Regions from separate parts of the Homo sapiens genome. Here region 2 is linked to region 1. The links come from fine-mapping of genetic effects on gene expression. A gene starts in region 1. The other region holds a variant in brackets. All regions are shown on one strand. Distances are between the middles of the regions. Region 1 holds the start of STX1B (syntaxin 1B). Region 2 overlaps ZNF668 (zinc finger protein 668).

The links. PIP is the estimated chance that this variant, and not a neighbour inherited with it, causes the effect. A credible set is the group of variants that fine-mapping cannot tell apart.
Region 2: its variant is the best candidate, but not a certain one, in a credible set for the expression of STX1B in subcutaneous fat (GTEx, PIP 0.55).

The regions. Positions count from the first base shown.
Region 1 is chr16:31,008,056-31,013,421 of GRCh38, forward strand. STX1B (syntaxin 1B) reads right to left here and starts at 2,583. Exons shown (of 10, transcript NM_052874.5): 1 at 2,312-2,583. The coding sequence starts at 2,341. RefSeq lists an enhancer at 2,619-3,120.
Region 2 is chr16:31,063,480-31,068,845 of GRCh38, forward strand. It overlaps ZNF668 (zinc finger protein 668), which reads right to left. Exons shown (of 3, transcript NM_024706.5): 2 at 334-1,002. The coding sequence starts at 980. Among named protein-coding and RNA genes, the nearest start is that of ZNF668, 8.1 kb to the right of the region's middle. RefSeq lists enhancers at 171-798, 799-1,426. The variant A/G (reference allele first, on the strand shown) is at 2,609.

The sequences.
Region 1 (5,366 bases):
AGTCCCCTGGGCTAATGTCCCCTCCCACCACCGCCCCTGCCTCATCCCTCCCAGTGTCTCAGAGACCCCGTTTCCAGGTCCCCCACACCCTGCCAGGTGTCTCCTGCATCCCAGGCTCCTTGCTTTCAACTGTAGCAGGGAGACCCTTACGCTACCTGAATCTGTCAGCTTTTCCCACCCCGCCCGCCCCCTCTTGAATCTCCAGTTTCCCTGAGCTGTGACTAATACCAAAGCCACCACATCCACTCAGCCCCTTCACCCTTCCACACCACCTCCGGCAGCCACAGCCAACAGGATTCCTTACCTCTGAGCAGGGGCCCCTGACTCATTCATGAGGCCTCCCCCTCCCCTGCCTCCCCCTTACCCCGCTTAGCCTTTTCCCTCCCTCTTTCTCGAATTGTACCCCAATTCCACACCACCTGATCCCAACCCACTTCCATTTCCCTGGGTTTTGGAGTCATGGAATAGTCCTGGTAGCAGGGGAACTGGGTTCAAGTCCGGATCCCTCACCTGCTAGCTGTGTGACCTTTGGAAAGTTATTCAACCACTCTGGGCCTCAGTTTCCCCAACTCTAAAATGAAAGAGCCTCCCCGTCCACTTGCCAGGAGGTCAGTGGGGCTCTAATGACATCACGGATGAAAGCCTGCTCTGCAAACTGAGGAGGGGAATTGACAGCACCGATGCTGAAGCCGGCCTGCCTGGGTTTGAATCCTGCCTTTACCAGCTGTGTGACTTTGGTCTAATTACTTAACCTCTCTGAGCTTAGTGTCCTTATCTATAAAATGAGATAACATATATCTATATATCTAAAAAGATATTTATATATCTATGAAATGAGATAACCAGTCTCATAGGATTGCTGTGAGGATCAAAATGAGTGAATATGCATAAAACACTTCAAACAATGTTTATTATTACTGTCACTTTCCTCATGCCTGAGTGTATATTCAGTAAAAATGTAATAAAGAAACCTTTAAAATTCCCTCCCTCAGCCACCAGCTCCTCCTTGCTTCCCATTTGGCAACCTGTCTGTCCCCAGAGACAGCGGTCACTTGCCTCCAAACACCTTCTTCTCGTCTGTCTGTAACCTGGGTCCCCACCCCCAAATCCAGGGGACAGCTCTTCACCCCCAGTGCTGAAACTTCTGTTTCAAAGGCCAGAAAAGCAGAGACCTGTGTCAACCTAGCAGACAGGAAACCCAGATTGCAGTCTGCCCCCCACCCACTTGCTTGGTGACCTTGGACAAGTCCCTTCCCACGCCTGAATCTCAGTTTCCTCATCTGTCAAGTGGGGTAATAACCCCTGGGGTAACAACCCACCAGTTCCCTGTAAAGGCTCAGTGCATTGGGCAGCTCAGCCGGGGCCGGTACCCTTATTAACATAACACCACCAGCCCAGCACAGTGCGGACTGTCAGTGCTGCCTCCTCGGGCCCCAGGTCATTTCTCCAAATACCCCAGCGTCCTCCCTGCCCCTGAAACCATTCTCATCGAACCCCACTCCCCAGTTCCTCCAGGTAGCAGCCTCCACTGCAGTCCTTCCCCTGTCCCCCCAAAACCAGGGACTGCCTGGCCAGACTCTTGGAGCCGGGCCTCTTCAGGCCTGCAGACCTGGGGCCTGCATCAGCCCTTGACTGCCCGGGGTGCCCCAGTTCCCCCAAGCAGAGCACGGCCCGTGTTCCATGGCCCTCTCCTCTGCATCCCCATCTCCCACCTCTGGGTCACCCTGTCTCAGGCCCTGGCCCTCTGGCTCTCTCCGGAGGCCACCTCTTCCCTCCCTGTCTCGGAGAGATGCCCCCTCCCTATAGGGAGTGACACACGCGTGTGCACACACACACACACTTCATTCACTGCCAGGTGCTGGCATCTCAGTCCCAACCTGTGTCCTTCCCCGTAGCATCCCCTGAATCTGGGTCCTGCTAGACTCTCAGCCTGGCCCAGTCACCGCCCCCATGCTTCTCTTTGGCAAACCTGCCCAGGGGATGACAGTCTCCTCCGGTTTCTCCTGATATCCACTCTCTCCCATCCCCAGACCAGACCCCGGGGCCCTCCTGGGAATGCGGGGTGTTCGAGGCCCCTGAGACCTCTCCTGCCCCCTTGTGTCTTCATGGCCTCCAACCCCTTCCAGGCACTGTCCCCAAAATGCAGGTTCACTGGAGAGACATCAGGCGCCTGAAGATACTGGGGTGCTCCGGCTACCAACCTCCGATCTCATCCTTCGCCCCCACGTCCCAGCACCTCCCCCACTCCATCCCCACGCGCTCCCCCAATATTGGGGTCCCGCCCCCCCATTCTCCCCACCCCCAAGCTCACACTCCGCAGCTCTTGAGTCCGATCCTTCATCCTGCGACGGCTCCTCCTCCTCCTCCTAGTCCTCCTGCCTCTGCTGCTGCTCCGGGTCTCCCGCCTCTGTGCCGGAGGCCGGGGTCTGGGGGCGCCGGGGGGCGCCGCGGCCGCTGCGGGGGGCCTGCGGGCGGGGGCGGGGCCGGGGGCGACTGGCCGAGGGCCGGGCAGGGGCAGGGGCCTGGGCCGGGCTCGGCTCTGCCGGGCTGCGGTGGCGATGCGGCTGCGGCACAGGGTAGGATGGAGGGATGCGGGAGCCGAGCGCGGGGGAGGGGGGCGGAGGGAGGTGAGGAGGAAGCGAGGGCGGGGGGAGCGGGAGCGCGCAAGGAGCAGGGGGCATGCGCAGCACCCGGGCCGGGGGCGCCTGGGGGTTGTAGTCACGGGCTTGGGGGACACCCGAGGAGGGGGCGGGAGAGGCCTGGAGGCGGGTGGGGGTGGGCAGAGCCCGAGGAGCAGGGAGAGATGCGGAGAGCCAAGCGGAGATGCTAGGGTGGCCCGGGGGGTGGGGTGGCCCGGCGGAAAGAGGGGGTGACGGAATGAATTCAGGGAATAACCTGGGAGCCAGGATGTGGATCCCTTTCCAGGAGACACAGATCGCGGCTGTGTTTTGTGTCTGGTGTCTGCGTGAGGCTGCGCGCCGACCACCTCTGGGTGCGAGCCCATGTGTGTTCTTGCAGGAGGCTCTTTGGACACTATAAATAGAAAGACCGACCCTCTGTGTGGTTTTTACGATGCAGGGAACCAGCCAGGTGCTTGCTGAGAAGGACACGGGGCTTGTGTTGCACAGCCTGGGCCTCTCCCGCCGCGGTGGGTCTCGGAGCTCTGCTTGTCTGCCTCCAGGGACAGGGTGCTCACTACCTCCCAGGACCTCTTGGCCCATCTGCAGATGGCTCTGACTGTTGAACATGAAATTTGTCCTTAGTGGGAGGGGAAATCAGGTGCCCCTGAGGGTCTGAGTGACCTCCTGTTCTGATGCCCACCTCTCCTCTCCCCATCCTTACACCACACCAGCTCCTCCCACCCCCTGCAATGGGGCGCCGGTCCCCAATGGGACAGGTCTTGACTCTCAATCGATCCTCCTGCCTCAGCCTCCCAAAGTGCTGGGATTCCATGCCTGGGCCACCGCACCCGGCATTCTCTTGCCAGGTACCCAGTGACCTCCTTGGTGCCAAATCTGTGTCTGATAAACCCTCATCCCACACCGCCAGTCGGGCCTTACCATCCCTGACCTCTCAGCAGCATGTGACCCTGATGAGCCCCTCTTCCTGAAACCCTCCTGTCTGTGGTGCTCCGCCCACCTACCCCCCAACCTGATCTGTGAGTGTTGTCTCCCAGCCTCTTTCCAGGTCCTTACCTTTTTTCCCACAGCCCTTCAACCTCAGGGTTCCCTGGGCTCCGTCCATTCTCTCTTTTTTTTTTTTTTTGAGTTAGGGTCTCATTCTGTTGCCCAGGCTAGAGTACAGTGGTGCAATCTCGGCTCACTGCAGCCTCAACGTCCCAGGCTCAAGTGATCCTCCCACCTCAGCCTCCTGAGTAGCTGGGACTACAGGCACGCGCCACCACACCTGGCTAATTTTATTTTTTGTAGAGACAGGGTCTCACTATGTTGTCCAGGCTGGTTTTGAACTCCTAGGGTCAAGCGATCCTCCTGCCTCAGCCTCCCAAAGTGCTGAGATTACAGGCCTGGGCCACCATGCCTGGCATTCTCTTCCTTCTTTACCTGCATCTTTCTGCACCTCCGTGTCTGCAGTGCCCACATCTGTACCTGCGAGCCAGATCCTCCCCCTGTAAGACAGCCCCTACTATATGCCTAAGCTCTGAGCTGGGCACCAAGAAGACAGAGATTGAAGATGCCACCAGAGCCATGAGTAGATCCATGACTACAGTGGGCATGGCTAGCGCTGACGTGGGGACCTCAAGGAGGTGGCTGTCCCCAAAGTGTTCCTTCCTGTGTTCTCCCTCAGAGATGGCGTCATCTCCATCCACCCAGCCACTCAAAGCACAGAAAGCTGTCCTTGCCTCCCCGCCATTATAATGCCAGCACGTTCTGGGCATCCAACGTGTTGCATTCACTATGCTGGTAGCTCCCAGAAACCTCCCAACCTCACAGTAGCCACTGCTAAGATCCCAAGTGTATAGACAAGGACACTGAGGCTTTGCATGGTCACATAACATATCCAAGTTCACAAGGTTAATAAAGGGCAGGGCTGGGGTCTTGTTTGCTTTTTTTTTTTTTTTTCCAGAGACAGGGTCTCACTCTGTTCCCCAGGCTGGAGTGCAGTGGTGCAATCACACCTCACAGCAGCCTTGACCTCCTGGGCTCAAGCAATCCTCCCATCTCAGCCTCCTGAGTAGCTGGGACTACAGGTGTACACCACTGTGTCCAGCTAATTTTCTTTCTTTCTTTCTTTCTTTTTTTGAGAGAGAGTCTCGCTCTGTCACCCAGGCTGGAGTGCAATGGCGCGATCTTGGCTCACTGCAATCTCCGCCTCCTGGGTTCAAGTGATTCTCCTGCCTCAACCTCCCAAGTAGCTGTGATTACAGGTGCCTGCCACCATGCCTGGCTAATTTTTATATTTTTAGTAGAGACAGGGTTTCGCCATGTTGGCCAGGCTGGTCTGGAACTCCTGACCTCAAATGATCCACCCGCCTTGGCTTCCCAAAGTGCTGGGACTGCAGGTGTGAGCCACTGTGCCTGGCCCTAATTTAACTTTCTTTTTTTCTTTTTTTTGCAGAGACGAGATTGGTCCTAGCCTCCTGGGCTCTCACCTCGGCTTCCCAAGTGCTGGTATTATAGGCATAAGCCACTGTGTCTGACCTTGTTTGTATCTTTTGATTGCAAAGCCCATTCTTCTTTTCTTCTTTCTTCTTCTTCTTCTTCTTCTTCTTCTTCTTCTTCTTCTTCTTCTTCTTCTTCTTCTTCTTCCTCTTCCTCTTCCTCTTCCTCTTCCTCTTCTTTCTTCTTCTTCTTCTTCTTCTTCTTCTTCTTCTTCTTTTCTTCTTCTTCTTCCTCTTCCTCTTCTTC
Region 2 (5,366 bases), 55 kb after region 1:
ACCTAGACAAACCAGGCCCCACTCACACCTCCTGGTCTCCACAAAAGACCCTCAGAACTGCCCAACTCCAAACCCCGCCCCCTTTCCAGCTGGCCTACAACGGAGGCCAATCTGACCCAATCCCATTCTCAGAGATCAACCTCAAGGTGGTTGCCACCTCTGCCCAATCAGGGGCACCAATTTCTCCCACATGCCTAGCCCCTCCCCTTGGATCTGCCATGCCCACCTTCCCATTGGCTCACTTTACCCTGAGACTCAAACCCAGGCCCCATTGGCTGCAGCAACGCTGTCGCCCTGCCCCGGAAGGCGCCCTGCCCCGGAAGGCACCCTCACCGCTCATGGTTGCGGAGGTCCTTGAGCTCCGCATAGGCTTTGCCGCAACGCTCACAGCTGTAGGGCCGCAGGCCAGCGTGAGTACGCCGGTGCTTGCGGAACACTGAAGGGTCAGCAAAGCTCTTGCCGCAGTCGGCGCAGGCGTAAGGCCGCTCGCCTGTGTGGCCACGCTGGTGGATCTTGAGCTTGGAGAGCGCGCCATAGGCCTTCGGGCAGTGCGCACAGCGGAAGGGCAGTTCGCCAGCGTGCGAGGCCAGGTGCACGCGCAGGCACACGGGCTGCATGAAGCGGCGGCCGCACTCGGGGCACGGAAAGGGCTTCTCCCCCGTGTGGCTGCGCCCGTGGCTGCGCAGCTCGGGTGCCGTCTTGTAGGCCTTGGGGCATAGCGGACACGCATAGGGCCTAGGCTTGGCCGCGGAGCCTGACACCTTCTCCCCACTGGCTTCCTCTGCCTTAGCTTCTGTCTCTGGCTTTGGCTTCACCTCGGCCACCTCTTCAGAGCAGTCTGCCGGCCCATGTGTGGCAGCGTGGCGCGCTGCCCTGGGCGCGTTTGGAAATGTCTTGGTACAGGACAGGCACTTGTAGCGGCGGCCCGAGCGCTTGTAGCCGGGGGCTGGGGACCGGGCCTCTGCAGCCTCCACTTCCATGGCCTTGGTGAACGGGGTTTCTCTGCAAGAGAAGCAAAGTTAGACCAAAGCCACATACCTTCGCCACTCCTGAAAGCCTCAGAGAGAACCCTATCTCATCTGCATTTCTCACCTCGGAACCCACACATCCTTCCTGCCCAGCATTCCTGGCTCTGACATCCTGCGTTCGTTTCCTCCCTGATCTGCTCATTGAAGAAAGGAGTTGGACCAAGTGTCCGCAGAGCCACTAAGAAAGGAGGCTGAGGGTCACAAAAGATTCACCTACACGTCCCCCCCCGCCCCCAACGGGCTTTTCCAAACACTGTGGCATTCCCAGAGGCCCAGGTTCCATCTGTCTCACCATCTTCCTTCTTCAGCTCAGTGTCCAAGAACTATGCCAGGATAAAGAGTGTACCCAGACGTGGGCCTGGCCTGAAGGTCTCCAAGCGCCCAGAAAAGACAGACCTGGGACCAGAAAAGGGCTGAGCCAATGGGCTAAATCTGGTAGCTGGCACTGTCTGGAAGTGACAGGTCCCCAGCATTTGTGTTTTCTTTCCTCCTCTGGATGGTTAGTCCTCAGAGACAGCAACTGTTCACACAGAATTCTGGCCTTGCACAGCTGTACGGGCCTCCGCCCCAGACTGGAATCTGTCCACTCTCTGCTCTGGAATCTTGTTGGCCTGTTCCCACAACTCTGGTAATGGAGAATCACTCAAGGCAGCCTGAGCCATTGCTAGCAGCTGGAAGCCTCTTTCTGAGTCATAACTGATGTATCTGATCTAACATGGCCTCCTGGGATACCAGCTCTAGCTGAGATCCCTACTTTCTGGTCCAGAACCCAGACGCCCTCCACCCAGCTGCTCCTGGGGATCATGGTTGGGAGGAAACAGGATTAATGGCTGTATTAGTCTTAACACCAGCTCATCCTCCCTGGGGGATGAAGGGAAGAGGATTATGGCAGATCCACTTAAGGAGTGCTCAGCAGCTGCTGCTGGGGGAAGGGGTCTGAGGAGTGGGGGCTGCAGGGAGCCAGGTGTGCCCAGAGGCTAGGGGGCCTACGTTCTACTTGCAGCCCTGTGGATTACTATGAGACCTCAGTGAAATGAGTGTTGTTTATAAGACTATTTCCGCCCGGCTGGGCGTGGTGGCTCACGCCTGTAATCCCAGCACTTTGGGAGGCCGAGGGGGGCGGATCACGAGGTCAGGAGACCGAGACCATCCTGGCTAACACAGTGAAACCCCGTCTCTACTGAAAATACAAAAAAATTAGCCGGGCGTGGTGGCGGGCGCCTGTAGTCCCAGCTACTCGGGAGGCTGAGGCAGGAGAATGGTGTGAACCTGGGAGGCGGAGCTTGCAGTGAGCCAAGATCGTGCCACCGCACTCCAGCCTGGGCGACAGAGCAAGACTCCGTCTCAAAAAAAAAAAAATAAAAAGACTATTTCCTCATCTGGACACGTTAGGGGTTGGTGGCTTCTAAGTTATGACACTGGGGTTCAGGAGGAGGAAACTGAGCTGAGCCACGAGGGTGCTAGGGGAAATACAGAGACTCAGGGCCCCTTATGCCAGGAAAGGGCGGGAGAAGCAGCTTACCTGGTTGACCCAGGGAGGACACAGGAGCCCCTGACGCGTGGCAAGGGCCACATCCTTA[A/G]AGTCAGCACCCTTCTGCCTGAAATCCCGGCCTCAGGCCTGCACGCTGCCCTCCCTCCCCAACCCCATGCAGCCGGTCTTCTCCCAAAAGTAATGAATGATGTTTCCTGTTCCCTGCTCAAGAACTTTCCATGGCTTCCACCACACCATGCAAATCCCCAGGTCCTTCCTGCTTGTTCCAAATCTGACAAGTCCTTCACTGGAGCCCCACTTCCACCAGGAGGATCCTCAAGCATCTCCCCTTTGGGTTTGGCCCCAATCCCACAAAACTCCATCTTATTCTCACTTGGTTATTTCACTTTTCCCACTAAATCCTAGGGCTTAGCCAGGTGTGGTGGCATGCGCCTTAAGTCCCAGCTACGTGGGAGGCTGAGGCGGGAGGATCCTGTGAACCCAGGGGTTCGAGGCTGCAGGGAACTATGATCGTACCACTGCGCTCCAGCCTGGGCAACCTGGTGAGACCCCATCTCTACTAAAAATAAAAATTAGCAGATGTGGTGGCATGTGCCTGTAGTACTGCCTACTTGAGAGGCTGGGGTGGGAGGACTGCTTGAGCCCAGGAGTTCAAGGCTGTACCACTGCACTCCAGCCTGGGAGACAGGGCAAGACACTGTCTCAATCAATCAATCAATCAATAATCAATCCTGGGGCTTGAAGATAAGTTAAAGGGACTGAATTCTAACCTTTCTGATGACTTGAATTCTTCCTACAGTTTCCAAGGGATCCCTCCCTATTTCTGGATGAGGTACTCACTACCTCTTCCAGACGGTTTCTGGAGAGTCTGCCTGATAATGTTCCTCCTTAATAAAAATGATAGCTTGGGCCAGGTTCAGTGGCTCACACTAGCACTTTGGGAGACCAAGGCGGGTGGATCGCTTGAGCCCAGGAGTTCAAGACAAGGCGGGTGGATCCCTTGAGCCCAGGAGTTCAAGACCAGCCTGGGCGATATAGCAAAATCCCATTTCTACAAAAAATACAAAAATTAGCCAGGCATGGTGGAGCATGCCTGTACTCCCAGCTACTCCAGAAGGCTGAGGTAGGAGAAATGCTTGAGCCTAAGGAGACTGAGGTTGCAGTAAGCCAAGATGGTGCCACTGCACTCCAGCCTGGCAACAGAGTGAGACCCCATCTCAAAAATAAATAAATAAATAAATGATAAAAAAGATAGTTCACATTTACTGAGCACTCGCCAAATACCAGGCAGTATCCTAAACTCCTTATGTGTATTAGCTCAGTTACCCTTCATGGCAACCCCATGAGGAAAGTTCTATTATTCCATTTTCACAGATAAGGGAACCAAGGTCCAGAGAAATGGTTCAGTATTTTGTTAAGTGCCCAGTCCCTGAAGCCAAACTGTCTGGCTTCAGATTTTGCCTCCATCACTTCCCAGCTGATGTGACCGTGTGTAATGTACTGCATGTCTTAGAACCTCAGTTTTCTAATCTGAAAAATGGAGATAATGACAGTACTTACCTGACAGAGTTGGGTGAGGAATGAATGAGTCAAAAATAATTACTGTCCTCAATTATCAAAGCGTCTTCTTAGAGCCAGACACATTGCTGGGTGTGCTGGTTTATTTAATTTAATGTCTTATACCTTTCTGAGATAGGGATTCTTGTCCCTACTTTACAGAGGAATAAATCGAGGTTCCAAGAGTTAAGTGACTTGCCCATGGTCCCACAATGGGTAACCTAAGCAGCTGGGACTTCAGTCCAGGTGTTTAATTTGCCTTAAGTTGCTGGGGTCTTGCTCAGTGGTCTGGGGCCTCTTACGCTTGTCTGCTGCCTCCGCCAGCCCCACAGTGACCAGAACCCTGAGCTCAGGTCATACCTGTGTCTTCTCTCATCCTTGCAGAACTGCCCTGAGACCCTGGCCGGCACCCTTTATGTCTCTGCTTCCCTCTCAGAGGGCTTGACCCAGTGGTTCTGAGCTCTGGCCCTTCTACTGCCTCTTGCCAGCTCTGGGTCTCAGCCTTCCTATCTGTGAGTTAGACACCAGGTAGCTGGAGGGGAAATCCCTCCTCCCATGGCACTTCCCAGGGGAAAAGGTAGGGGAGTGCCAGGTTGGTCTCAGCATGCGCCCAGCTACACAAAGAGGCCAGGTAGGCTAGGTCTCTGTCTAACATCCCACCATTAAAAAAAAAAAAAAAAAAAATATATATATATATATATATATATATAATTTTTGAGATGGAGTCTTACTCTGTTGCCCAGGCTGGAGTGCAGTGGCGCGATCTTGGTTCACTGCAACCTCCGCCTCCTGAGTAGCTGGGACTACAGGCACCTGCCACCACACCTGGCTAGTTTTTTGTATTTTTAGTAGAGACGGGGTTTCACTGTGTTAGCCAGGATGGTCTCAATCTCCTGACCTCGTGATCCGACCGCCTCGGCCTCCCAAAGTGCTGGGATTACAGGCGAGAGCCACCACGCCCAGACTTTTTTTTTTTTTTTTATTAAAGAGCTTGAGGTAGGCCTCAGGAATCTGTATTTTAAATACACTCTGGATCATTCCAGCCAATACTTTTGTTTGTTTGGTTTTGAAACAAGATCTCACTCTGTCGCTCAGGCTGGAGTGCAGTGGTGCAGTCATGGCTTACTGCAGCCTTGACTTCCCAGACTCAAGCAATCCTCCCACTTCAGCCTCCCAAGTAGCTGGGACTACAGGCATGCACCATCATGCCTGGCTAATTTTTATTTTATTTTTAGTAGAGATGAAGTCTTGCTATGTTGCCTGGGCTGGTCTAGAACTCCTGGGCTCAA